2 separate regions of the Homo sapiens genome follow, and region 1 is linked to region 2. Evidence: fine-mapped expression QTL. A gene starts in region 2. The other region holds a variant in brackets. All regions are shown on one strand. Distances are between the middles of the regions. Region 1 overlaps LOC130890646 (a long non-coding RNA gene). Region 2 holds the start of GNG11 (G protein subunit gamma 11).

Region 1 (12,813 bases), 140 kb before region 2:
TTGGTTTGCAAAAGGAGCTAAGAAATGTTATAGGCAAGCTAGAACTTGAATGGAAATGTTGATCTGGTTTCCTCATTCATAGGAAGAGCATCATGCAACTGAAGGACATTTCTCCATTATGACTAAACCAGGTGGATAATAACATCTATTTTTCAGTTTACAGACACATGTTGTTTTTACAATGCAACAAGTTAGATATTATTTAACAGTTAACCAAGTAGAACGTGGATGCAGACAAGCCTGGTGGTCATTGAGTTATTCAGGGCTTCTATTCATTCTAAGATGATTTTTGCTATACATGCTACTAGAATTCATTTTTCAGAGATCATACTCAACCTTTCTTTTTTTCTGATTTGATGGTTTGTGCTGTTACAAAATAAAAAATAGTGGTACCTTACCATTTGTAATTTTAAAAATTCGTATGAAAGATTATTAAATATAAATTACTTATAATTTGAGGGAAAGAGGGTTATCTTTGAGCTGGAGAGAAGAGCATATCTTTCAAGGAAAAGCTAAGTACCATTTATGTAGGAAAGTAATTTATATAGAAAAGATATCAACAATCATGTTTGGAGGGCATGGTAGATATATCCAAAACAATTTGTTTATTCTCTATCATCTGAAGAAATATTAACTAAAGTCCTTGGCTATTCTTTGATTATACTGAATGAAATAGCAGCTGCATTTGACCAGGAGTTAAGTATTTCAGACAGCATTATCTAAGTTTTTACAGCATGAGCTGAATAGTAGTGAATGAAGATGAATTTACTAAAAGTTTCTCTCCTAGGCAGGATAGAACTTGCTTGTTAGGCAGAAAAATTGTAGCAAATAGTAACAAATTGAAGAACACAGCTCTAGGGATTAAGGCAGTCAACGAAGAGATGGATCTTTGTTCTCGCTGACTTTTCTCTTAGGTTGTCACTTGCAGCTAGCTCTGTGCTGAACTGGACCAGACGATGCCTGTAGGGATGGAACCAAGTCATCCTGCTTAGAAAACCAGTCTCAGAGGTGGCTACATCTCTGCTTTCATAGTGGTTTTTAGTCCACCATCCTTGACCACACTAGGTCTTGTTGCTGCACGGCTTGTTTGCTGAATAGAGTATTTCATACACAACAATGTGTGGTGCTCTCTGGCCCCATCACAAAGTTGCCTTATATGCCTAGATGTCAACTGGAATCAGAAAGTCAGAAAAGACATCTTGAACAGGCTCTGTCTAGCACAGGAGTTCTCAGGAGGCATGAAAGGGCACACTCATGCTTATTTTTCTGCGACAGGGTTCTGGCTAATATACTCATCCATCATTTTCTTTTTCTGTGCACAGAATGAGGAGATACCTTTTTATTTGGTAAAGTCTATAATATTGAAAAGTTGTCACAGAGCACGGGCCCATCTGACAGTGAATCAATGGTGATTATGAAAGCACCTTAGCCATCTTATCTGACTATATGGTTAGGAATAAGAACATTTGATTCCTTGACCAGAAATTACCACCAACTCCAAAAATAGACATAAAGGATACACAGTTCTCCTAACAAGCAAAACATAGGTCTCTTGATTCTTCTTCTGATTTTTCATTCAGCTTCACAGTGATTTTAATTACTTCAGAGCACTGACCAATTACTTCAGAGCCCTGACCAAGTGATTTTAATTCCTTTAGAGCACTGACCAAGACAGCCAAACACTTAGAAGAAAACATAACTAAATGACAGGCCGTGAAAATAATAAGACATTTTTGAGGGATGTAGCAAAAACTAAACTGTAATAAAAGTGTCTGAAGAAGCAGAGCCTAGTAATTAAATGCAAAATGAGTGAAGCAAAAGCAAAAAGAGATTTTGGGTCATCATTTCTGACTTAAGAATGATGGATAACCAGTCACCCACCAGTAGTAGGCTGGTTGTTCACCCCCAAATCTGCCCCCCACCCCAACACCACTACCCACATCCTAAAACCTGGAGCCTGTGAATATTACTTTATTGGCCAAAAAGGACTTTGAAGATGTGGCAAAGGATCCTGAAATAGGAAGATTATCCTGCATTATCCTGGTGAGCCCTAAATGCAGTCATACGTGTCTTATAAAAGGGATGCAAATGCCAGAGAAGAGGAGAAAGCGTTATGACTATGGAGGAGGAGATGGGAATGATACGACCACAAGTCAAGGAATGCCAGCAGCCAGCAGAATCTGTTAGACACAAGGGACAGATTCTGTCCGAGAGCCTCCAGAGGGTGCTGCCAACACCTTGATTTCAGCCGCCAAATACTGATTTTGAGTTTCTGGCCTCCAGAACTGTGGGAGAAAAAATTTCTATTGTTTTAAGACACCAAGTTTTGATAATTTGGTATAGCAATCTCAGGAAACTAATGGTTTCCTTATACAAACCATTCTTTTTCCTTTATAGAAACCAAACCATTTCCTTTCATTCTGTTATCTGTTACACCATCAATGAATCAGCCAAAATAGGCAATAGGCACTACAGATAACACAGTCAGCAGGCGTTTTTTTTTTTTTTCCTGGTTTATGATAATCTTCATAAAAGACCTGCCAGACACCACTCAAGAAATTTCCAAATGGCTTTCAATCTTTTGGTCTCTGTTCCTTCTGGTTTTTTTTTTTTTTTTTTTTCCAGAGTATTAACTTCATTTAGCAGTTACAGCTGTTGACCTGAAAGTCCTTATCAGCAGCATAGCAGATGAGTGAGAACAAGAGTTATGGGTCCTGAATCTATAGGGAAGCCAAATCAAACACAGCTAGAAAAATGCCTCCACTGTGAGTAAAGACAACATATCTTCTTTCACATGTTGTACTAAGGATCAGGAGAGCTGAAATCTCATGTTGATTTCTGATGATTACCTTTGTCTTCTTGAGCAAATGACTTAGTTTCTCTAGGTCTTAGGGTCCTCATCTGTAAAATGAATCAATAAGATACACTGTGAAATTCCTTGAACCCTTAACATTCTATGAATTTATCCAGCCCTGAGTTGAAATTAAAATTTATAACAAGCTCAGCTTTATGGACAGAGTTTGTGGTCACCTCTATGGGTATCAGATATCTCATCATCCTAATCACAAATACCAGAAATTTCACCCATAGAAATGACACAGAGAGAAAGAAAGAGAATATATGTATATATATTCTTCTGTTCATTTAAAAACTTCTGGGTAAAATGACGTAACACATTAGAGTAAATTAACTTATCAATCTTTACTATAGATGTTTTCATTCTGTTATTGTTATAGACACATTACACTAGAACTATTAGCTTATATGTCTGTCTATCCCACTAAACAACAACCTTTCTGAGAGAAGGGACTAGATCTTATATACCACTGAATCCTCATGACCAAGTACTTAAATGCTGGTACAAAGCAAGTGCTTAGTAAATATTTGTTGTATAGATGCATGGCCAGCTGGGTGACTTCTCTCCCATGATAGGATATCAGAAGAGAAGTGGGCAGTAGAATGGCTGAGAAGGTCCCAGGAAGGGGAGCACAAAAACCAAAAACCAAAAACATCATCTACATCTCTTAGCTGTGATGGACAATACAGTTCCCAAATCACCTATCCCAGACTTTTCTCATAGCTTAAAACCTTCATCATGTTTCCTTGGAGAGAAAATTGGGTGCTCTTCATCAGAGGTTTGGTTTCTTTTTAAAACATTCTTTATCTCTCTGAAGCACCATTAGACTGTTAATTGAAATAAAAGAGACTTAATTTGTAACTGGGACTTGTGAAGTGGTAATTAGAAACATATGCTATATTGCATTTGAATGCTTTCCTTATTATTAGCATGTCTATTGATTCTTTTTAAACCACTCCGTTCAGTTGAATTTCAGTAGATGAATTTCAGGTATTTTTCCATTGAAAATGACAGTGAAGAAAATTGCCAAGCAATGAGACATTAAGCAAAGAAATGAGTATTTGGCTGGGCTATTTTTCATGATGTTTGCTATTTTTAAAATAATTAATACAGCTTGTAAGGAAAAAACTATGGTGAGTTATGCCCCACTCTACCTGCAAAATTAGTCTAAAAACACAATGTTATCAAGAGTGGGACTGAACTTGATTTGTAATAGATTACTCTTTAACACTTATGGCTTAAAAAAAATCAGAGAGTTCTTAATTTATAGCATCTTTAGGAAAGGGTGCTGATACTAAATTAAAAATATTCCACTCAGTTAGGTGACTCTGTGTTTAAAATCTCTTCTGTTACTAGGAACCAAGATATTTACAATGTTTTGTTTCTTTTTAGGCTGACTTGGGTACTAATATTGAGAGATATGGGACCTTTTTCCACATCCTTCTCAGACAAGCCATTCAAATCACTACAGTTATACTGTAAGGTACTTTCTATTACACTCTGGTACATTGTTATCTATAAAATATATACTCAAATAAATGAGTGACAAATACTCATCTTCATTACATAATTAAACTGGACATACTTTAGCTAATAAATAAGATTTCTCTTCGAAAACTAACTTTCTATCTCTGTTAAATCTAATCCCTGAGAAAGTTGGACCCTTAGCAACTGGTCTGTGGGTGCAAATAAGATCAAATCTAAACTACTCCTTCCTCCGCAGTCCCTGGCCCCCTTTTCCTTGTATTAGATGTCTTCGTTCACTGCCCAGAACTTCTGTTTTACCTCTAGTCTCCATGTGCCTCTTCCTGAATCATCTTCATAGTTCTCTGCTCTTCACCCTTCAATTGCTTTCTCTCTCCTTGCCTGTTTCTTAGGAAATGATATCACTCTCTGGCTTCACCAACCACAAACTAGAGTGTGTCTGATTAGTAGCAGACACTAGAGTAGTCTGCTACTAGTTAAGATCTGGCTCATTATGAAATGATTATTCCACAAGATCTATATCAATAGTGAAAATAATACACTTTTAAAACCCTTATCATTGGGCTGAGTTTTTGAACATCAGCCAGCG[A/T]TAGCAGAATGTGAACATAGCTGCATGCAGAGTTAGATGAAGAGTGGCATGCAGTTCCTGAGTTCTCTTTATCCAAGTCACCATTTTTGGATGAGGTCTCAAAAGAATTGGGAGATCCTGGACAAAGTTCCCTACGGAACTGAGATTCTCTGAGGAGAGTTCTCATAATCAGAATCATAGGGGAATTTATGACATTATCATTCACATTTACTCCTTCACTAAACCCCTCCTCACCATCCCCACTCACTTCAAAACAAAACAACCACTAGGCGTGATCTCCCCAAACAGTGTAACAATGTTGTCTTTCAAGACTTAGTTTCTGTCACAGGATGGAAAGTGTCATTGTGGTGCTGACAAGGACACACTTTCCCTGGAAGACACACAGAAGAAATAGAAGAATATAGTGGCTTGGCTCTGGGAATTCAGAATTCAGAAGGATTCCTTTTCCTCCAGAGTAAACCAAGAGCAAATCAAATTGCTTGGTGTCCCTTCAGCTCTCTCATTTTCTTTTCGCATATTTGAAGTGCTTACCTGGCCTTGCTTCTAAATTCCACCGCTGTTCCAGATTCGCTGGATTACTTCCTGTTTGGTTGTTCGGTGTTATCTTCCTTTATACAAATCAGTAGTCTGAAAGTCATAAGCATAGTTTAAAAAATAAAAGAGCAGACATAACTAAATGAGACAGTGAGACTTGTGCAAATTTAATATCCAGGTCAAACTGAATTCACCCAACAAAAGGAACAATAATTTATTTTGTTGTACCCAGTTACCTCCAAACAGATTTTGATTATGTTGATTGCTGAGGATACATGACGAAGAAAAACAGCTGGAACTGGCGGTCATAAATCTTAGGTTCTTGTTCTGGGTTTGCTGCTAACAGGCTTTGTGACCACAGGCAAATCACTTAACTTCTCCGTGCCTTTTCTATGTGTTACCCCATCTGTAAAACATAAATAACAGTGCTTGCCCTAACCTGACTTCTATGACCCCTTTAATACAGCTCATGTTACTAAAATAATTAATCCAGCTTGTGAGGAAAAAAATATGTTGAGTTATGCCCCACTCTACCCGCAAAATTAATCTAAAAACACAAAATATATAAACTAAATAAAAAATAAGATGTACCATAGTGAGTTAGCCTAATCCGACTCTCTTCCTTGTTCCTTTATATCAGGATGAAGTCACAGAGTGACTTTAGGTAACTAACCTAAAGTTACCTAAGATTTAGGTAACTAACCTGACACTGTGAAAGTCTTTCTAAAAGGCTGTCTTATTTAGGAAGAAGCTGAAATTAAAAAGACAAACAAATGGCTCTTTCTCTCAGGCGTCACTTTCCTTGGGAGTAAAATTAACCCAGCATCCTAACCACTGACTGATGTGGCTATGGTATTACGTGTTAGTGAGAGGAGTGGGAGGGACACACAGGAAATGAAGAGGATGACTATGATTTGAGCTGTTTGCAGAGTCAGTCTCCTTTGGGGTCAATGGTGGGGGCAGCATGTAATAAATCTTCTGAGATGGGTGCCTGAGACCTTGTTACTGGAAAGGACTGTTTGACTAGCCACCATTCTTTCCCCTCTCCCCGCTACCCCCGAGATGGAGTCTTGCTCTGTCACCCAGGCTGGAGTGCAGTGGCGCAGTCCCAGCACACTGCAACCTCCATCTCCCAGGTTCAAGCAATTCTCCTGCCTCAGCCTCCTGAGTTGCTGGGATTACAGGCGCCCACCATCCTGCCCGGCTAATTTTTGTATTTTTAGTAGAGACGGGGTTTCACTATGCTGGCCAGGCTGCTCTCAAACTCCTAACCTCGTGATCCACCCATTTCGGCTTCCCAAAGTGCTGTGATTACAGGCGTGAGCCACCGCACCTGGCCCATTGTTTTATATGTTACACATTCACTTTCATTGAAGAGTATGGAAATTATTTATGTCCTCTCCCTTGTGTATGTGTCAGACTTGCCAAAGGAAGTGCCTGGATGTTCTTAATTTCTAAAAGGTTTTAGAAAGGAAAAGGCAGAAAGCTTAGTCAATAAAGGCTCACAAAAGACAGGCTTGGGATCCCACTGCATGTCTTTCCCCACTAAAAATATAAATGGGCGTATCTGATCCGTAGGTGCTCTAATTTCTAAATACCCAACCTACAGTCTGCAACTTAGTCAAAGATAAGTATGATTTGCTAAATTATATACTTAAAACCAGCCAAAGTGGCAACGTTTTCCCTGTCAGATTAAGAAAGTTTAATTAACTTGTCTGTTACGTAGATAGCAAGGATTGGGGTCAGAATTTGAATGCAGCTCTCTCTGACAGTCAAACTGGCAAAGCTAGTAAGTTTTTCACTTCTCCACCCCGAGGTGATAGCTGTGGATCACATCCCTAGTACTTATTTTAGTCTGAAAGGGTTTGAAGTGATTTAGAAGTGGAAGGAGGAGTACCTCATTTCCGATTGCATTTGTGAACTTTCTTCTCACGCACAGATTGTGAAACCCTTGCTGCTGTTGTCATTACTGACACTCATTTGCAACATATGGGTTCACTGGGCTTTCACTGATGGAGCTCTGGCTGCTTTTGTTGACTGGTAGGTGGAAATTCGTCATGGGGACCCTTGGAAAGTGAGCAAGGAAAATACCATGCAGGAAAATGTTGTCACCTGAAAAAGTTACTCAATTTACAGAGTATGAATGTGCTTTCTTAAGAACTCCCGGGTCTTAAAGAAGTTTTTAATACTTTTACTCAACACACACTTATATAGCCCTTACTATGGGCTGACAGTGTTAGTGCTTAACAATTATTAACTCATCCAATTTTCATGAAAACTTGATGGGGCAAATACTATTATCATCTCCGTTTTGTAGATGAGAGAGCTGCGGCATACAGAGATTTAGTAATTTTTGCCCAAAGTCACAAATACAATTTATGGCAAATCTAGGATTCAAATCCAGGTATTTCTGCTCTAAACTCCATGCTCTTGAGCATTCTGCTATACTGCTTCCAGAAGACAGTTGGTGCAGATGTGATGTAAACAAAAATTCAGTAAAGTGAATACTAAGTAGTATGAGCCTGAATATTTTCTCCTTTGGTTTTTAGGTTTTTATTAGCTTCCCATGTAAAAATATCTTTAAAGCATTGAAGTTAGGAGTTTGACATCTAACATACACTTATTTTAAAAGAAATGGAAATAATTTTCAATTAGTGAGGACGCCTTAGAGGACTTGGCCCTCCATGTGTACTTGCTGGGACCAACTCTACTTCACTGTGCACTGGAGGATGGAGGCAGCCCATTGCTTGTTCATGTGTATCCAGGAGTAGCACGTGCTTGGGATATGGTGGGCCTTCAAGGTTGAATGAATGAATGCCAAACCTTATCCTGCCTTCTGGTGATGGGGGCTTGACTCAAGTGCTGAGAGAAGACATTTTCTCCTTCCTACCTTCAGTGGACCTTGAGATACATTCCTTAGTCTCCCTGAAGAGATTCCATTCTCTGTTCCCTTGGGACTTTTCTATTTCAGCCCTACTTCTTTAAGCCTTTTCCTTCTTGTTAAATCTTCTGTTTTCACCACTGTTTTATTGTTTAATATATATCTTAGTTAACTAATATTTATTGAGCAATTATTACACGCAAACTCTCTATTGATGGTTTCATTTTAACCATCATAAAATTGTGGCAAACTCTTAAGTCAATGCAACTTCTGTCATGTGCAAACAACTGCATGACCTTCATGTGTCCCATGAACCTCCTAATAGGAGGCTGCATCAGTTTCCTGTGGCTGCTGTAACAAATTACATCCAACTTGGCATAACAAACACAGATTTATTTTCTTACATTTCCAGAGGCCAGAAGTCTGAAATCAGTTGCACTAGGCTAAAATGAAGGTACAGGCGGGTCTGGAGACTCTGAGGGGTGAATCCTTTCCTCGGCTTTTCTGGCTTCTGGGGCCACCCACAATCCTTGACTTATGACCCTATCCTTACATTACTCCAACCTCTTGCTTTTTTTAGTCACATCCCCTCCTTCCTCTTCTGTGGTGAAATCTTCTTCTGCCTCCATCTTTTAAGGAAACTTGTGATTACTTGTAGGGCCCACCTGGCTAATTCAGGCTAACATCCCAGTCTCAAGATCCTTAACTTAGGCACACCTTCAAAGTCTCTTTTGCCATATAAGGCAATTGTAATGGTTAGTTTTTGTGTTAACTTGACTGGGCCATGGATTGCCAAGATATCTGGCTAAACATTATCCTGGGTATGTCGGTGAGGGTTTTTCAAGATGAGAATAACATATGAATCGGTAGACCAAGTAAAGCAGACTGCCCTCTCCGGTGTGAGTGGGTCTCAACCAATCCCTCGAGAGCCTGAATAGAATAAAAGGTGCAGTAAGGGAGAATTCAATCTCTTTGCCTGACTGTCTTCAAGCTGGGACATTGGTCTTTTCCTCCCTTCAGACTCAGATTGGAACTTACACCATTGACTCTCCTCTCTCAGGCCATTGCATTTGGACTGGAACAATACCATCAGCATTCCTAGCTTTCTAGCTTGCCAAATATAGAGTGCAGGGCTCCATGGCTCCATAACTGTGTAAACCAATTCCTTCTAAAAAAAATCTCTTTCTATATGTGGTGTATGTGTGGCGGGGGGTGGAGGGGTGGCAGGGGGGCGGCGGATTGTATCTCCTCTTTGTTCTTGTTTCCTGGAGAACCCAGACTAACATAACATCCACAGGTTCTGGTATATGAACATTTTTGGGGGCCATTCTTCAGCATACCTAGATGCTCAAAGACATTTATACAGTATTTCTAAGAATCAGATAATCATTTTTATGTTCATCAGACAAACCAAAAACACAAAATACCAAATATGTTTCTTCTTTTTAGTAAAACAGTCTGAATGCAACTAAGCACAGTCATAATTGAATTTTATAAGGAGCCATTCTCTCTCTTCAGCACCATCCCAAAACACTTTTAAAAATTATTGTGTGACTACTATTTTCTTTTTCAACCAAACTTTTGGAATCACTCAAATTCTTATAAAACTTAAAAATCCCTTATTGCAACAAATGGTCTCTTGACTCTTTGCTCATTTCTTAGAGAGTATGGTAGCTTTAGAACATGTCCATAAATTGTTTAACAATTCCCCACAAGAAAGAGGCAAACTTTTCTTCCTGTCCCTCCCCTTGCACCTGGGTGGACATTTGTGATGATTTCAACAAATAGAATATGGTATGTGTGATGCCAAATGATTTCAAAACGTAAGTTGCAAAAGGCCATGAAGATTTTGTCATTTCCTCTTGGGTAATTCACTTTCAAGACCTCAGCTGCCATTTTAAAAGGGTGACTAACTCGAAGCTGCTATGCATGAGTGATCATGTGGAGAGATCCCATTGAAATAGAAAGAAATACCTGAGGAGCTGCAGAATTCCAGCCTCTAGCTGTCATGTCTCCCCAGTGTTCACGTCTTCCAGATGAGGCCTCAGACATTCCAGCAACTCCAGCTGGAGTTTGCAAACTGCAGCCTGCAGGCCAAATCTGGTTCACTGCCTATTTTTGTAAATAAAGTTTTATTGGAACACAGCCATGCTCTTTTCTTGTATGCATGGTCTATGGCAGTGTGCTATAATCGACTATTTGAATAATTTGACAGTGACCATTGGCCCTGCAAAGCCTAAGAATATTTGCTATCTGGGCCTGTACACGTTTGCCAATACCTACTCTAGAGTGTAGACACATTCTCCTCACTGTGCCCATCTAAATTTCTGAAAATCTAATAGCATAATAAATGCTTGTTTTATACAAGTTAGTTTTAGAGTAATTTGTTATGCAGCATTGGATAGCTGATACAGAGTTAGGGTGATATCACTAGGACATTTCTAGGAGTCTTTTTGTTTTTGAAGTATATTCAAGCTCACTGAATATTACTGATTTTGAAGAACATCTCTGTTAGCTATCACCTTATTTCTCTGCTTCCTTCACTGAAAACTCCTGTGAAGGGTGTATTTGCTATTTTTCTCAGCTTATTTCAACCAGGTTTTTGGCCGTTATCATTACCATTTCACTACAATAACTATTATCAGTGTCATCAAGGGCACTTGCCAAAGCCAATGTGTTCAGCTTGCTGAAACTCTGTGGAGTTTTCTTTTTTTTTTTTTCTTTAAATCTTGGTTGATGATTATTTCTTCCTGGTCTCCTTAGTTGACCACTCTTTCCTTTCTTCTGTGAGTTGCCAAGATCCCACACCTCTCTGAGTTTTTATGTTACATGACTCAGCATGTTTTGCCCATTTGTCTGTGACCCTTCTTCTTCTGTTAAGCTTCTAGTTGTTAAATTACTTCAGGGAGATTGCTTCTGAGTCCTCAACTTTTCTTCATCTACTTTTTTCTCCTCTTTTCCTCAGAGAGTAGATCCAGCTCTGTGGCCATAAATGGCACTCCTGTATTGGGTGCATATATATATTTAGGATAGTTAGCTCTTCTTGTTGCATTGATCCCTTTACCATTATGTAATGCCCTTATTTGTCTTTTCTTGATCTTTGTTGGCTTAAAGTCTTTTTTATCAGAGACTAAGATTGGAACCCCTGCTTTTCTTTGCTTTCCATTTGCTTGGTAAATCTTCCTCCATCCCTTTATTTTGAGCCTATGTGTGTCTTTGCATGTTAGATGGGTCTCCTGAATACAGCACACCAATGGGTCTTGAGTCTATCAAATTTGCCAGTCTGCATGTGGCATTTAGCCTGTTTACATTTGGGGATAATATTGTTATTTGTGAATTTGATCCTGTCATGATGCTAGCTGGTTATTTTGCCCATTAGTTGATGCAGTTTCTTCATAGTATCGATGGTCTTTACAATACATATAAATACATACATATAAGTAAAAACACAGCAAAATTGAGAAAGGTGCAAGGATGTCTTATATGTCCCCTGCCCGCTATATGCATAGCCTCCACCATTATCAACATCCCCCAAGAATAGATGTTTTATTATATTAAAAATTATTTCAAAAATCCCAATATTTTAAACTGCAGATTTGATAAAGAAGATGATGAATAAGCAAGTAACCCGAAGCTCTAAAGACTTGATAAAGACAATTCATATAAAACCCATAAATAATACAAGTACTTCTAATTGACAGAACCAGGGTCAATTAAGTTTAATGTCAAAGGATATTAAGGAGAGATATAATTGGTGAATATTAAAAATTTGAAAGAAGAAACATCTGTGATTCAGTGTTCATTTAATATAAAATTTATGGCATATGTTTTAGAATAGAGTAATTTTCCATATCCTGAGGGGGTTACATATTTTTAACTTTTTCTTTTGCTTGTAGAGATAATTTTATATTTAACTTAAATTCCTGTTCTATCTATCCAAATTGAAGATCAATTAAAATATTAAGGATTAAAATGTTAAATTGATTATATGAGAAAAAACTATTAGGTAAAATATTAATGGAAAGAATATTAAAATGTTTGGGGCTGTATTAAATATTTACTAGCTATAGCCTTTAATAAATTAACAGTATTGCCAAAGTTTTTATTGCTGCTGCAGCTATTAAAAGTAGACACCAAAATAGCCATTGCGTTGAGTATGAATAATTAACCTTTTGAAAGAATATTATTCCATTTAATGAGTTTTATCTTGCCATCTTGAATATTTGCATTAAATATTAACTTTTAGCTAACTCAACGTGCATAGCATGGTGGCCTATGAATTTGGATAATATGAGGACTAGGGTTGTATTTTAAAGATGTTCTTTGCTCTTATTCTAAGACAATGGCATATTTTTACCCAAGTGAAATGAACTAGTTCAAATACATGTATATGCTATTTGTACCAGCAGGTTGCACTTTTTTTTTTTTTTTTTAGCATACATTCTCTCTGTGTGTGGTAACAGCAGG
Region 2 (12,813 bases):
TAGCAGAGAACTGAAAACAACCCAGACATTCTTTGATGGATAAATTGGTAAACTGTGGCACCTCTGTAGCATAAAATACTACTCAGCAATAAAAAGGAATAAACTATTGATACACACAACCAACTTGGATGAACCTCAAAGAAATTATACTGAATGATAATAGCCAACCTCAAAAGGATAGCTACTGTATGATTTAATTTATGCAGCAGTCGTAACCTAATTATAGAGATGGAGAACAAATTAGTGGTTGCCAGCAAAGGAGGAGAACAGGCATCTTCAAAAGAGAAAATTGACACACACGAAAACTGACTAAAAATCATTGGAAATCAAAGAAATGCAAATTTAGACAATGGTGAGATATTAATTTGCATCTAGCATACAAAAAATTTTGGTCTCACAATACCAAGTGTGGGTGAGCTTTAAGGTAGCTTCTGCCTAGAAATAGAAAAGCCCAATTTTTCTTTCTTCTTTTTTTTTTTTTTTTGAGATGGAGTTTCACTCTGTCACCCAGGCTGGAGTGCAGTGGCGTGATCTCTGCTAACTGCAACCTCCGCCTCCAGGGTTCAAGTGATTCTCCTGCCTCAGCCTCCTGAGTAGCTGGGATTACATGTGTGCGCCACCACACCTGGCTAATTTTTTGTGTATTTTTAAGGAGAGACGGGGTTTCATCATGTTGGTCAGGGTGGTCTCAAATTCCTGACCTCGTGATCTGCCTGCCTCAGCTTCCCAAAGTGCTGGGATTATAGGCGTGAGCCACCCTGCCCGGCCTGATTTTTCTAATTCTATATGAGTTTATAGAACCTAAGTCTCACTACACAATGCATGATAACTATTTTTAATCAAATAGTAAATAATTACACAACTATACACTTTGAATAAATTGGATACATAATTTAAATTCTACTTAACAAATTATCAGTCACCAAAGGTTACATTTACAATATATCTAAATATATAGTGGATGTATTTTTTCTTTTTTAATTACAAGCTAATAATTTTAGCAGTTGAACAGTTGAAAATTAAAATATTTTTATTGCACTTCTACATGTTGGCTGGGTTATAATGATAAATGGTAAGAAAAAGAAACAGAATTATATTTAATAGAAGCACCTATAAGATTAGATATTTATTCAGGAAAAACCAGAAGTCGTCCAACTGATTGATCATATGGTTGAAAGAGACATGAAGAGCAAAAGCTAGGACTTGGGAGTGTACACAAATGGATAGCTGAATGTGCTAATAGAAATCAGGATATAGACTTGTAATCGCAACTCCCAACAAGTTAGGGAATAAATGTATTGTCTTGGCCTTTCATGAAAGAAGCAGGTGATTTAAACTGCCTTGCCAGTAACCGGAATAAATGTTTGCTTTCATAGGCAACAGAAGAAAACTTTATAAGTGCAAAGAAATGAAACAGCTAATAGAAGTAAAACTTTACAGGCACCAAAGCTCTAAAATCCCATGCCATGTTAAATGTTAAATGACTAATAGTACTAATAGTTCTATGCTGTTTGGAAGAAATACACCTTTACTATTCCTAAATCCTTCCTAAGAGTAGTAGATCATACTACTCCTTCCTAGGAGTAGTAGTTTTGGGCTAAAATTATCCCTGGGCTCTCAGTAATGCCAATTGATGTCATCACTTGGACAGTGTCAGGAAACTGAAGGAAATAGTTTCTGCTTTTGGTCTGTGTAAACTATTTTTCAAAAGCCTGGGGTATTCTGTTCTTTCCCAGAGAGGGAAAGGAAAGGAATTTCAGAACGAGGATGCTGATATACTTTAGAAAGCTGCTACAGGTTACAGGCGCCTCTCTCGCTTGATAGTAAGGTATACCTACATGTGTAAGTGGGAGAAAAGAGCTAGTCAAGGAGAAACATTGGCTTCTGGTGCCACATTGAAAATTGCAGGTCAAGTTAATGACTAAGTCCATTTGAGCTAGAGCTAACCAGCAAGGGTTTTTCCACGTTTTTCTTTTGGCTCAAACTTGGAGCAATTTTGACCCAAAAGACGGAGAAGAAGCGGGAGAATGCTCAAGGTGAGAAAGAAAGGTCCCTTTTTGTGAGGTTTGGGCTTCAGGTACCTTTGTTATGAACTTGAGCAGGAGTTATACTCTGACGTGTTGCCCTGCAGGATAAAACCACTGAAGGGAAGGTCACTGTGAAAAGGTAAGCCACAGACTGGGAGAAGGTATTCGCAACACATATCACCAAACACGAATAAATGGCCAGAATATATGAAGAATTCCTACAAATCAGTAAGAAAAAGACCAACTAATCTTTAAAGTGGGCAAAGATTCACTGGTTCCTTTGGAGGAGAAGAAAAAAAGGCATGTTTGGCCCAGGCCTGCTGGAAAATGCTGGCAAGCATGAGTGCAGAGGTCCAAGTGTCTGCACCAATGCCACAGAACTGGAGTAGTGCCATGCCCAAGACCTGGAGAGCACATGGGAGATGTAGCTCTGTGCAGGAATAAGTACTGGCTCTCAAAGCCAGGGCTGGCCTGGCCACTACACGGCAGAGAGGCAGGGCACTCTTCCTGAACCCCAACTCAGTATTTTCTTCAAGGCTACTACTACAGGAACACTATTAAGAAGATCTAAATGATGATAAACTAGGGAAGTACTAACATAGATGTGGCTTGGCCTTGTTCCTGACTCAGATAATCTGACTTCTGTCAATGTTATAGGAATTCTACCTGCTCAGTTTCTTAATAGTTAAGGTTAGATCAAACACGTTCCAGAGGTCAGAACTCAGCACTCTAAACCATTGACGCAGGGTTTGGAGATGTGATCTGTCGAACCACCTAACCTTCTGAATCATATTCCAAACCCAATCATACTCCACACCCAAAAGATTACGGGGAGAAATATAAAAGTTAATGCATGAAAAGTGTCTTCTTAAATCACCAACACTCATCTTCCCAAGACAAAACTTTATTTGAAGCATCAAGCAATATACTGAAAGAAGTGTCATGCTCAAGTAATGTTCTTATTTCCATAATTGTACATCTGATACTCTCTGCTCTCTTAAAAAAGACTGCATAGTGAGCAAAGATGAGTAGCACATATGCTTTTATACATAACCCTATCTATATGGTGCTTAAGAAAGTCTCCTTTTAATTTCATTCTTCCTTCCTTAAAAAGCATGTTGGTTTTATCTGGGAAAACTAAAACAAACTAGTTCTTCCACTTAGGATGCAGTTTCTCCCAAGTTATTTATGAAATAACACAGCTGCCTTTTTCTTTAAAGGGGTTCTTGTCTTCTGGAATTCCCTTTACTAGAGGATCCTCTCCAGAACGTTCTTCAATATAGTTCTTTATTTCTTCAGAACATTTAGACACCTTAAGTATAGAAAAAAAAGAGAATACATTAGGTTAGGGTTGTTTAAACTTTGTCCCTACGCCTTAATGAAATAAGTATAATTGAATACAATAAGTTTTTAAACATTTTTTTACATTTACATATATATGTGCATGTGTGTGTGTATATATTATATATATAATACATATATAAAATCTGGGCTCTGCACTCTAATATTTTTATTCTATTACTATACCTATGATGCAACCTATGTAAAATATATTTCTTACTGTTGGTCGTTGGTCAAATTAAAAAATGTTTGAAAGTCACTGCATTAAATAAATCATCTCCAGCAGTTTTTTTCCATTGTGTCTCATATGATTTCCTTCCTCTGCTAAAATACAATTATGCCATGTCTACAATATTTTAGGAACTGAAATATACTCTTATTTTAATTTTCCATGCTAGTGAGCAGGTGCAGTAGTAGATAATCCCCAAATGTTTTGGGGTGTGTAATGCCACGATTCTCACTTATGGGTGTGTGCCATGTTCTGAAATTTCACGAAATGATAGAAGCTTTGGAAAAAGCCTGATTCTGGAAAGATTGGAATTGTCCAAATATCGCACTCTGTGTTGCTCCTCAGAATTTCTTCCTGCTGCATGAGGGCAATGATCATAATAAAAGACTTATCTGAGACTTATTAGGCTTATCTGAGAATAAATTTTTTTCTGAGATGGAGAAAAAATTGAATAGTGTCTTCAAAAAGTCTATTCTTAAAAGAAGAGTTTCTTCAAAAAGTCTATCTATCCTTAAAAGACAGGTTGCAAGAATGAATTAAAAAAAGAATAAAAACAAAAGAAAAGAAATTAGGGTTTTAATGAAGGCCTGTATTGCTAGTAAGAAATTTAAAGTAAAAATTACAGAAGTACCAGCAAATTTAATTTAATTTAATTATTTATTTCTTTTTGAGATGGAGTCTTGCTCTATTGCCCAGGCTGGAGTGCAGTGGCAGGATCTCGGCTCACTGCAAGCTCCGCCTCCCGGATTCTAGCCATTCTCCTGCCTCAGCCTCCCAAGTAGCTGGGACTACAGGCGCCCACCACCACGCCTGGCTAATTTTTTGTATTTTTAGTAGAGACGGGGTTTCACCACGTTAGCCAGCATGGTCTTGATCTCCTGACCTCGTGATCCGCCCGCCTTGGCCTCCCAAAGTGCTGGGATTACAGGCGTGGGACACCGCGCCAGGCCGCACCAGCAAATTTAAATGGAGACCTATGAAAACTGGGCAAATGTTCCCATTGAATTAGTAATCTAAATTAGTAACCTCAAACTGTTTTAACGGTTACTACTAAAACATGTTTGCATGTGTATCCCAAAATGAATATAATTTTTAACTACAAATAAGTACAGACACTGCTTTGTTAATACATCATGCAAAATTATAAAACATAAACTGGAAATTATAAATGGGTGAGGTTTAAAACTAAACAGAAATAGCAATGTTAACATTTTACTTCCACACCCCAAATGATTATCCTCTGCAAATCAGTGTGGAAGCCTCTGACCTCAAATTGAAAACTAGGTGATGTAGTTGTGTGACTTAAAATCTGGCAAAATAAAATCTTTCAAATACAATTCTTTCAGGTAACATTTGCTCTCGTTTGTTGACATTCAGAGTGCATGCATTTTAAGTGAATTTTTAGAGTTGATAATGCACGTGTCATAATTTAGGGTCTGTCGTCCCAGGTTAATTTCTCAGCAAGATACATGCTCCCTACATTGAATCTTTTCTTACAAGGTTTTTTCATTAGGTTTCAGAAGAGGTCTGTAACCTCCAAATGTGAGTAATTGCTCCTCTGATACATTTCCTTCCATAATCAAGAGGACATGTTTGATAAACATTTAACTACAGCCAGAATGCAACTTGCAAGTTTTGTCTGGGCCTAAGTTAAGGACTGAACACGTAGCCCAGATGTTAACTATTTATTGACTGAATAATGGACTGGGAATGAGAAGAAGAATGTTTTAGTACCTGCCCTATCACTATCTATCTCTGTGGTCTTAAATGTGGAGCTAGTTAGCCTTTGTGGGACTCAAGTTTTTTTTAATCCTTAAAGTGAGGGAGATGAATGATCTCTAAACATTCCAATGCTTGCCTAGCAATAATAATGTATAATTCCAAGTGTATAATCAAATGTCTTAATATTATTGTTGAGATTTAGATGCCTCTTTCTGTATTTCCTAAGGTTACATATATCCAAAGTTTTTTCTCCCTCTGGCATACACTTGAGGTTTCTGGAGGTGGGAAGTTGATGCCACAGGCCGTGTCCTAAAGGGTCAGGCTGGCTAGCAGGGAGAAACTGCTAATGAATGATACAGTCAATTTTTACATAGTCGGTTGCATCCACATCACTTAACTTAAAACTCTGAGTAAGTAGAAGACGCTTGTCTTTTTTCCTAAGTTCTACACAGTGATACCAAATATTAAGATATTAGAACCTTGCATAGACAATGCTGTACTTCAGCATATGAAACTCTGTTTAATATGTAACTCCTAAGGTTTATTGTGTGAACATATCTAAGTGGCCAGCACTTGCTGTACTGGGAACTTCGCCATCCATAAAATGGGTCCCTTAAGGTTTCAAGAAGCGTGCTTATTGATTGGGTAGTGTAACTTCCTTTTTTTCCCCTTTAAACGCGTTGGTGTTTTTAAAGCTACAAACCCTTAACATGATAGAAGGGACAGCTCATTATAAAAGCTAGGAAGAGCCGGGATTTGGATGTGAAAGGTTAAATTTGAGAAAAGAAATATGTAAAAAGTAAAACACAAAAATGCCTGCATCTTCTAATCATCACTCAACAGTGAAGACTCTTGCCCTTAACAGATTTATTATAACTAGAACAGGAAGGCAAGTGAGCATATTATAACGCTTCATTTCCATTGTTTTTCTTAATTTTTTCTAGTGCTAAACCATAATAAATAAGATCAGTTCAAAATTTTCTTGCTGAAGAGGAAAGGTTAATTATCTTTAAACAATATCTATTCAAAGACCTTTCCTAGTCTACAGGATGCCTGATTGAGTTAAAACAGGAAGAGGGATTAGTGTCTGAAGGAAGGTCTTGATGACCAGTAAGAAATTGAAGTAAAACTTATAAAACTCCCGAGACGTTTCAGTGGAGAATATTGAATACTGGGTCATATGTTCTCAATGAAATGGTAATCTCTATCAATAGTCTCTAAAACTTTAAAATTGTGATCACTAAAAAAATTTTTCATATGCACCACAGTGTATGTATAATTATTTATAAATAAGTACAGATACTACTGTATTAATCGCATACTAATAAAACATAAAGTGAAAATTATAAAGGGATGAGATTTACAAATAAATATAGAAATTCTAATATTTTGTTCCCAAATTTCGGTGGACTGTTCTTTGCATATCACTGAAGGCCACTGGTGAAATTCAAAATTAAATAATGTACTTGTAAGACTTTAAAATACGGTTTTAGAAAATTTCTTTCAAATATCATCCTTTCTAGTAGTGTAAAAGATCAAAGAACCAAGTAGCTATCCGCTTTTTTCCTACAAGTGAGTTTTGAAAAACAGCTGTCTAATGGAAAGCAAGATTTCTTGTCTATTTTCCCCTTCCTAGGCATCTTAAAAGTTAGGACATTTGGCCTTAAATTACTTATCAGATCCTTGCTCCCTCCTCTACCTCCTAGGATTTCCCCACATCAGCTGGCAGTCCCCAGGCACTGCCAAAGGGTGGTGAGAAGAGAAGCTACAAAAAGGGGGAAAAATAAGCTAAACTATTTGCTTTACTGTTACTAAGCAGGAAAAATCGGACCCTGCTTCATTTCAGAGAAGGAAATATTCCGGAACAGCCAACTTACTTGTTGTCTCTGCAACTTCACTTCTTTGCGAAGCTGCTCAACTTCCATTTTCAGTTTTTCCTTCTCTGGCAAATCTTCGATGTGAAGGGCAGGCATTTTCGCCCCAGAACCGGGCTCGGGCTAGCTCTGGCAGCGGAGCCGCTGGAAGAGCGGCGAAGCTCGGCGCGTCCCGAAACAACTGAAGGCCTGGCCCGCCGCCCACCCGCGCAGGATGTGACTGCAGCCCTGCTGCGGTCCCCAGCTCCCCGAGGGCTTGGCTTTCTCCGGGACGCTTGTCACGCCAGCGTGCCCCAGCTTCCTAGGACCTGAGAACTCTGCCTTTTCTCAAGTCCCTGCAACCCAGGAGGCCTGCCCGGGTGCTAGATGAGGGTTAAGTTTGAGACTGGGTCCAAGCAGCTTCCCGCTGCTCAATCGCCCAGCAGGGATGCTGGCCACGGACAGGCCCTGACTCAGGACCTGCCACGCCCGCGGGGGACGGCTGGGCTGGGGCTGCAGGACTGGGAACAGCAGAAGTTTTACTTTGTGTTCTCCGCGCACCCCCGCTCCTTTTTTTTTTTCCGTTTCCAAGTCACATCCGGGTTTTGTTTGTGAAGCTAGGAAAAGGAGTACACTACCCAGCAGGAAATAACTACCCTTCACCTCTCAAAGAGTTTTAAAAATATGCTAGATATAGCTTTTCCCTAATTACATACATAGGTTGTTGCAAAAGTAATTACTTTTCTCTAATTACATATATAGGTTGGTGCAATTAGTTTTGCACCAACGTAATAAATGCATAGTGGAGAATGCGGACGCTTAAGAAAAGGCTGAAAAGAAAATGAAGCTTAGCCCTAATCCCAGAAATACCCACCAGTGTTCTGCTCATTTGTGTCCATCCGGCTTGTTCGAGGCCTAATATGGGTTTATACATTTTGGGCGAGGAGGGGGCAACAGGGTGTGAATATCGTTTACAAGTTGCAAGAACATTTTCTATTATTAAATAATCATCTGCATCCTCAACAGCAGCAGAGTTTGTATTTTTTTTATTTTTCCGGGGGAATGTTATGTAGAGGGGTGCATCAAAGGATGATATAAGAGAAGACAGAAGCAGGAATCTTAGAGTTCTTAACCGAAAGCCTTTCTCCACTCCCCAACCCTAAGTTTTGGGTGACACTTGACACCAAGGATTTTGAATTCCTGGCTCCTGAACCTTCCTGGATGTAGGCAGTGGATTCATTTAGTATTAGTTTCTCCACTTTCTGGCAAGCACTATTTATCTAGCTGTTGCTCTGGAAAGCCAGGAAAAGTGTCCGATGTGAAAAAAGTTTACATGCAATAAAACTTTCCCTTTAACTGTAACTAAAGTCTTGTTGATGGTGGTCAAAAGAGTAGAAGAAAAATCAAACATGAATGTAAGAAACCTTCCCTAGCAGTTGGATATTTCTCTTTCTTTCCAGAGATAACCTCCTGCCTCACAGAGTCAAAGGCAAGTGAAATATTAACTTAATATTTCAGAGTAGCTGACCCAAGACACCCATGACCATTCCCTGTTTAGGAAGCAGGAGTTTTTGTTCGTTCCTAGTTTCTTACCACGCTCCGCTCAACCTCAATGAATAAATTAGAATGAAAAAAACAATGAACCACTTAATGAATACTCCTGGCGTGTAGTTGCAGCTCTGCCACAGGCCATCACTGAAGAAGTCATTTAATTTTTCTTAGTTTTGGTTTTCTAATTTGTAAAATGTATAGTAAGGCAGGGAAGTAGTGAATCAGCTAAGCTATGTTGTGTCTCTAATTGTGTTGGTATGTCTATATATGATAAATCATTTTCACAAAGAAAATGTTTAAGAGCTTCACTTTCAATATTTGAAATACCAGGGTTTTCCAAGCTCAGAGTAGTTAGAGCATCTACTGAAGTTTACTTGTAAATAAGCAGGGAGACTAGACAAATGTCCATATCTGTCTTGTGCACTAATTCATTTTTAAAATTTTCTATTACTTAAATTTAAAAGGTTGGTCAAAAATACCTTAAATTAGTGAAAGTAATCAACGTGAATGTGGCCTAAATTAAATAGGTTCAGCACCTAAGTTAAATAAATTGGTTAAATAAATTATTGTGTTTTTGTTCTTTTTTTTGTTTTTTTGTTTTTTTGTTTTTTTTTTTTTGAGACGGAGTCTCGCTCTGTCGCCCAGGCTGGAGTGACTGGCACGATCTCCGCTCACTGCAAGCTCCGCCTCCCGGGTTCACGCCATTCTCCCGCCTGAGCCTCCGGAGGAGCTGGGACTACAGGCGCCCGCTACCACGCCTGACTAATTTTTTGTTAATGTGTGTTTGTTCTAAGTCATAAAAATATAATTATTTTGGCTTTGAAGTTTCTTTCCCATGAAATCATCTAGTTGCTTAGAGGGATAAATACTTATAAGCCCATATTGGTTCTTTAACTTTTCCCATCGTATTATGAGACGTATTAGAAACAAAATACTTGTTAGTCTTTTTTATTGTTATTAAATAATTCATATTCTAATATCTTAAGTAAATTGATTAAACTGAAGTGAATTGCAAAATGTTGAAATTGCATGATCACACAGGATTCTGAAAAAGGTTTTATTGTTGCTGGTTTCCTGTTTGTTTGTTTGTTTGTTTGAGACGGGGTCTTGCTCTGTCACCCAGGCTGGAGTGCAGTGGCGCGATCTCGGCTCTCTGCAAGCTACGCCTCCTGGGTTCACGTTATTCTCCTGCCTCAGCCTCCCAAGTAGCTGGGACTACAGGCGCCCACCACCACGCCCAGCTAATTTTTTTGTATTTTTAGTAGGGACGGGGTTTCGCTGTGTTAGCCAGGATGGTCTCGATCTGCTGACCTCGTGATCCGCCCGCCTCGGCCTCCCAAAGTGCTGGGATTACAGGCGTGAGCCACCGCGCCTGGCCCTGTTTGGTTTTAAATAGTAAAATGATGAGAATATTTTTTTTTAAACAAAAGGATGTGTAGTCTTCTATGCCTAGACACCGAATTTACCTCCCAGAGAAGAACCATGTTAAGCAATTTCTCATGTATACTTGCAGAAATAGTTTATCAGCAATATTCAAAAATTTTGAATAAATAAATTTTAAAATTTGTTTAGCTGTGTCCAAATGTTTTGTTAGGTTTTTACTTATATTTTACATAGTACCCCGGTAAAATTTATTTTACAAGTAGTATGAGTAGAAACCATTCTTTAGTAAAAATGACAGGTGCAACCAGCAATGAACTTTGATTAATTAGCCCACTGTCGTTTCACAAATGTTTTATAGAAATTAGTTAATAAAAATAAAAGTAACCATTTTCACTTTTAAATTATAAAAGAGTAACAACCATGAAATTTTTACTTTGGTATGCAAAAATAGGAAAAACAAGGTTTTGACAATTTTTGTGATTTGTTATGTTGTTAAAAATCTATATAAAGAAAAATAAAACATTGAAGGCAGTTAAACTGGAATTGAGCTAATACTAACTTGAACTCAAAAAAGATCAGGATTCTGGTCTTATTTTATCTTGTGATTTTTGCAAGAAACACATTATTTCTGCTTTTTTATTTCGTGTAAGTAAACTAGGTTACCTTTCAAAGTCTGCTCTTCTAAAATTTATAGAGTGACTTTGAGAGGCCGATACAGGAGGATCACTTGAGACCAAAGGTTCAGGAGTTTGAGACCAGCCTAGGCAACATACCGAGACCCCGGTCTCTACAAAAAAATAAATAAATATAAATAAATAAATAAATAAATTTAAAAAGTGCATAGTAACTGTTTTGACCATTGAAATTATGGTTTCTTTAAAGAAAGTACACTTCAGACGCTCTTGGTTCATTTGATATTTGTTTTAATCTGTTAAAACAATCATGAGGCAATTTTCAGGAGCTCATTTGTTTCCTGTAACTACCTACCTAAGATTCCTTTTCTTTTTTTTTTTTTTTTCTTGGGCAGGGGAAGGAGTTTAACTCTTGTTGCCCAGGCTGGAGTGCAATGGCGCGATCTCTGCTCACTGCAACCTCCGCCTTCCGGGTTCAAGTGATTCTGCTGCCTCAGCCTCCCGAGTAGCTGGGATTACAGGCGTGTGTCACCACAGCCAGCTAATTTTGTTTTTCTTTTTTTCTTTTCTTTTTTAGTAGAGACGGGGTTTCACCATGTTGGCCAGGCTGGTCTCAAACTCCTGATCTCAGGTAATCCTCCCACCTAGGACTCCCAAAGTGCTGGGATTACAGGCGTGAGCCACTGCACCCAGCCCTAAGATTCCTTTTCTAGATGAAGAGAATGCCAAGTCAAAGGATGATCTGTGTCTGATGCTCTGAGTATCTTAGCAACTACTTATAATTCAGGATATCAAAATGATTTCTCTGGCTGGGAGTGGTGGCTCTCACCTGTAATCCCAGCACTTTGGGAGGCTGAGGCAGGAGGCTCACATGAGGTCAAGAGTTCGAGACCAGCCTGGCCAGAATGATGAAATCCCTTCTCTACTGAAAAAAAAAAAAAAAAAAATAGCCAGGTGTGGTGGCATGAAATTGCTTGAACCCAGGAGGCAGAGATTGCAGTGAGCCAAGATCGTACCACTGCACTCCAGCCTGGGCGAGAGAGTAAGACTCCATCTCAAAAAAATAAAATAAAATAAAATACAAATAAAAATAAATGATTTCTCTTACCAATTTTGTTTCTATATTACTTTAACTCCCATCATATATAACTGATCATTCTCATTACTTAGTTTACTATTTTCCTCATGTAAACACATTATTGAGGCATTTAGGAAGTTTGATCCAATATAAACTTTTATAAGCACCACTCTTGCCTGCTTTTAAAGTCAATTACATTGTCCAGACAATTTGTTAGTTGATATGACACTTTTCAAAGATGAACAGTGCTTCTGACTTGGGAAATCTCCAATGTAGTACTGAAATTAAAACAACCGTAGAAATTATAATGAGAAAAAGTAAAGTAACGTTAAATGACTTAAGAGACACACAAAATACTCTTGAGGTAGAATGGGAGAGATAGTCTCATAAGAAGAGTAGGATTTCAAAAGGCTGAAATGGGGTGGAGTGGAGGGAGATCTCAGGTGGAGGGATCAGTATGACCAAATTCCAGGTGGTGGGAAAATGTCCACGGGAAGTATAATAATAGAGGACATTTGTTAGGCTTCTTTCTATGTACCCGTTTCTGATCTAAGAGATTATAAGTATTCAGATAATCTAGCCTAATCACTAATTTTATATATAAAAAAAAACAGATTCAAAAAGTTCACGTCATTTGTCCAAGTTCTCAATGACAAGGTGGAAGAGTCAGGGTTTTAATTTTGAATTGTTGGGCTGCAAACTTTGTCTCCAATGGTAAACTGAAAGTTAGAGATGTTGGTTAGGACCATCTTCTACAGGTTACTGAATGCCATAGCATGTACTTACTTTGTATTTATTTTAATCAGAGAAAGGGAGATATACTGAACACTTCACTAAATAAATACTAACTTGCAGGTGGAAAACTTCTAGAGACAAACCACAATTAAATAAACAAATAAATTGTAGTATGCCAGGTGGTGATGGTGCTACGGGGGAAAATAGACTGAGAGAGAGAGACAGGAAGCGCTTGGTGGAGGTTGGGAGGACTGTATGGAGA

The links. PIP is the estimated chance that this variant, and not a neighbour inherited with it, causes the effect.
Region 1: its variant is the best candidate, but not a certain one, in a credible set for the expression of GNG11 in monocytes after LPS (Fairfax 2014, PIP 0.85).

The regions. Positions count from the first base shown.
Region 1 is chr7:94,054,514-94,067,326 of GRCh38, reverse strand. It overlaps LOC130890646 (a long non-coding RNA gene), which reads right to left. Exons shown (of 4, transcript NR_186703.1): 2 at 5,702-5,871; 3 at 5,463-5,558; 4 at 1-2,901. Among named protein-coding and RNA genes, the nearest start is that of BET1, 57 kb to the right of the region's middle. RefSeq lists an enhancer at 5,829-7,028. The variant A/T (reference allele first, on the strand shown) is at 4,932.
Region 2 is chr7:93,916,617-93,929,429 of GRCh38, reverse strand. GNG11 (G protein subunit gamma 11) reads right to left here and starts at 7,695. Exons shown (of 2, transcript NM_004126.4): 1 at 7,197-7,695; 2 at 820-3,339. The coding sequence starts at 7,292. The coding sequence ends at 3,214. All of the region lies in intron 1 of LOC105375402 (a long non-coding RNA gene), which reads left to right. RefSeq lists an enhancer at 7,458-8,093.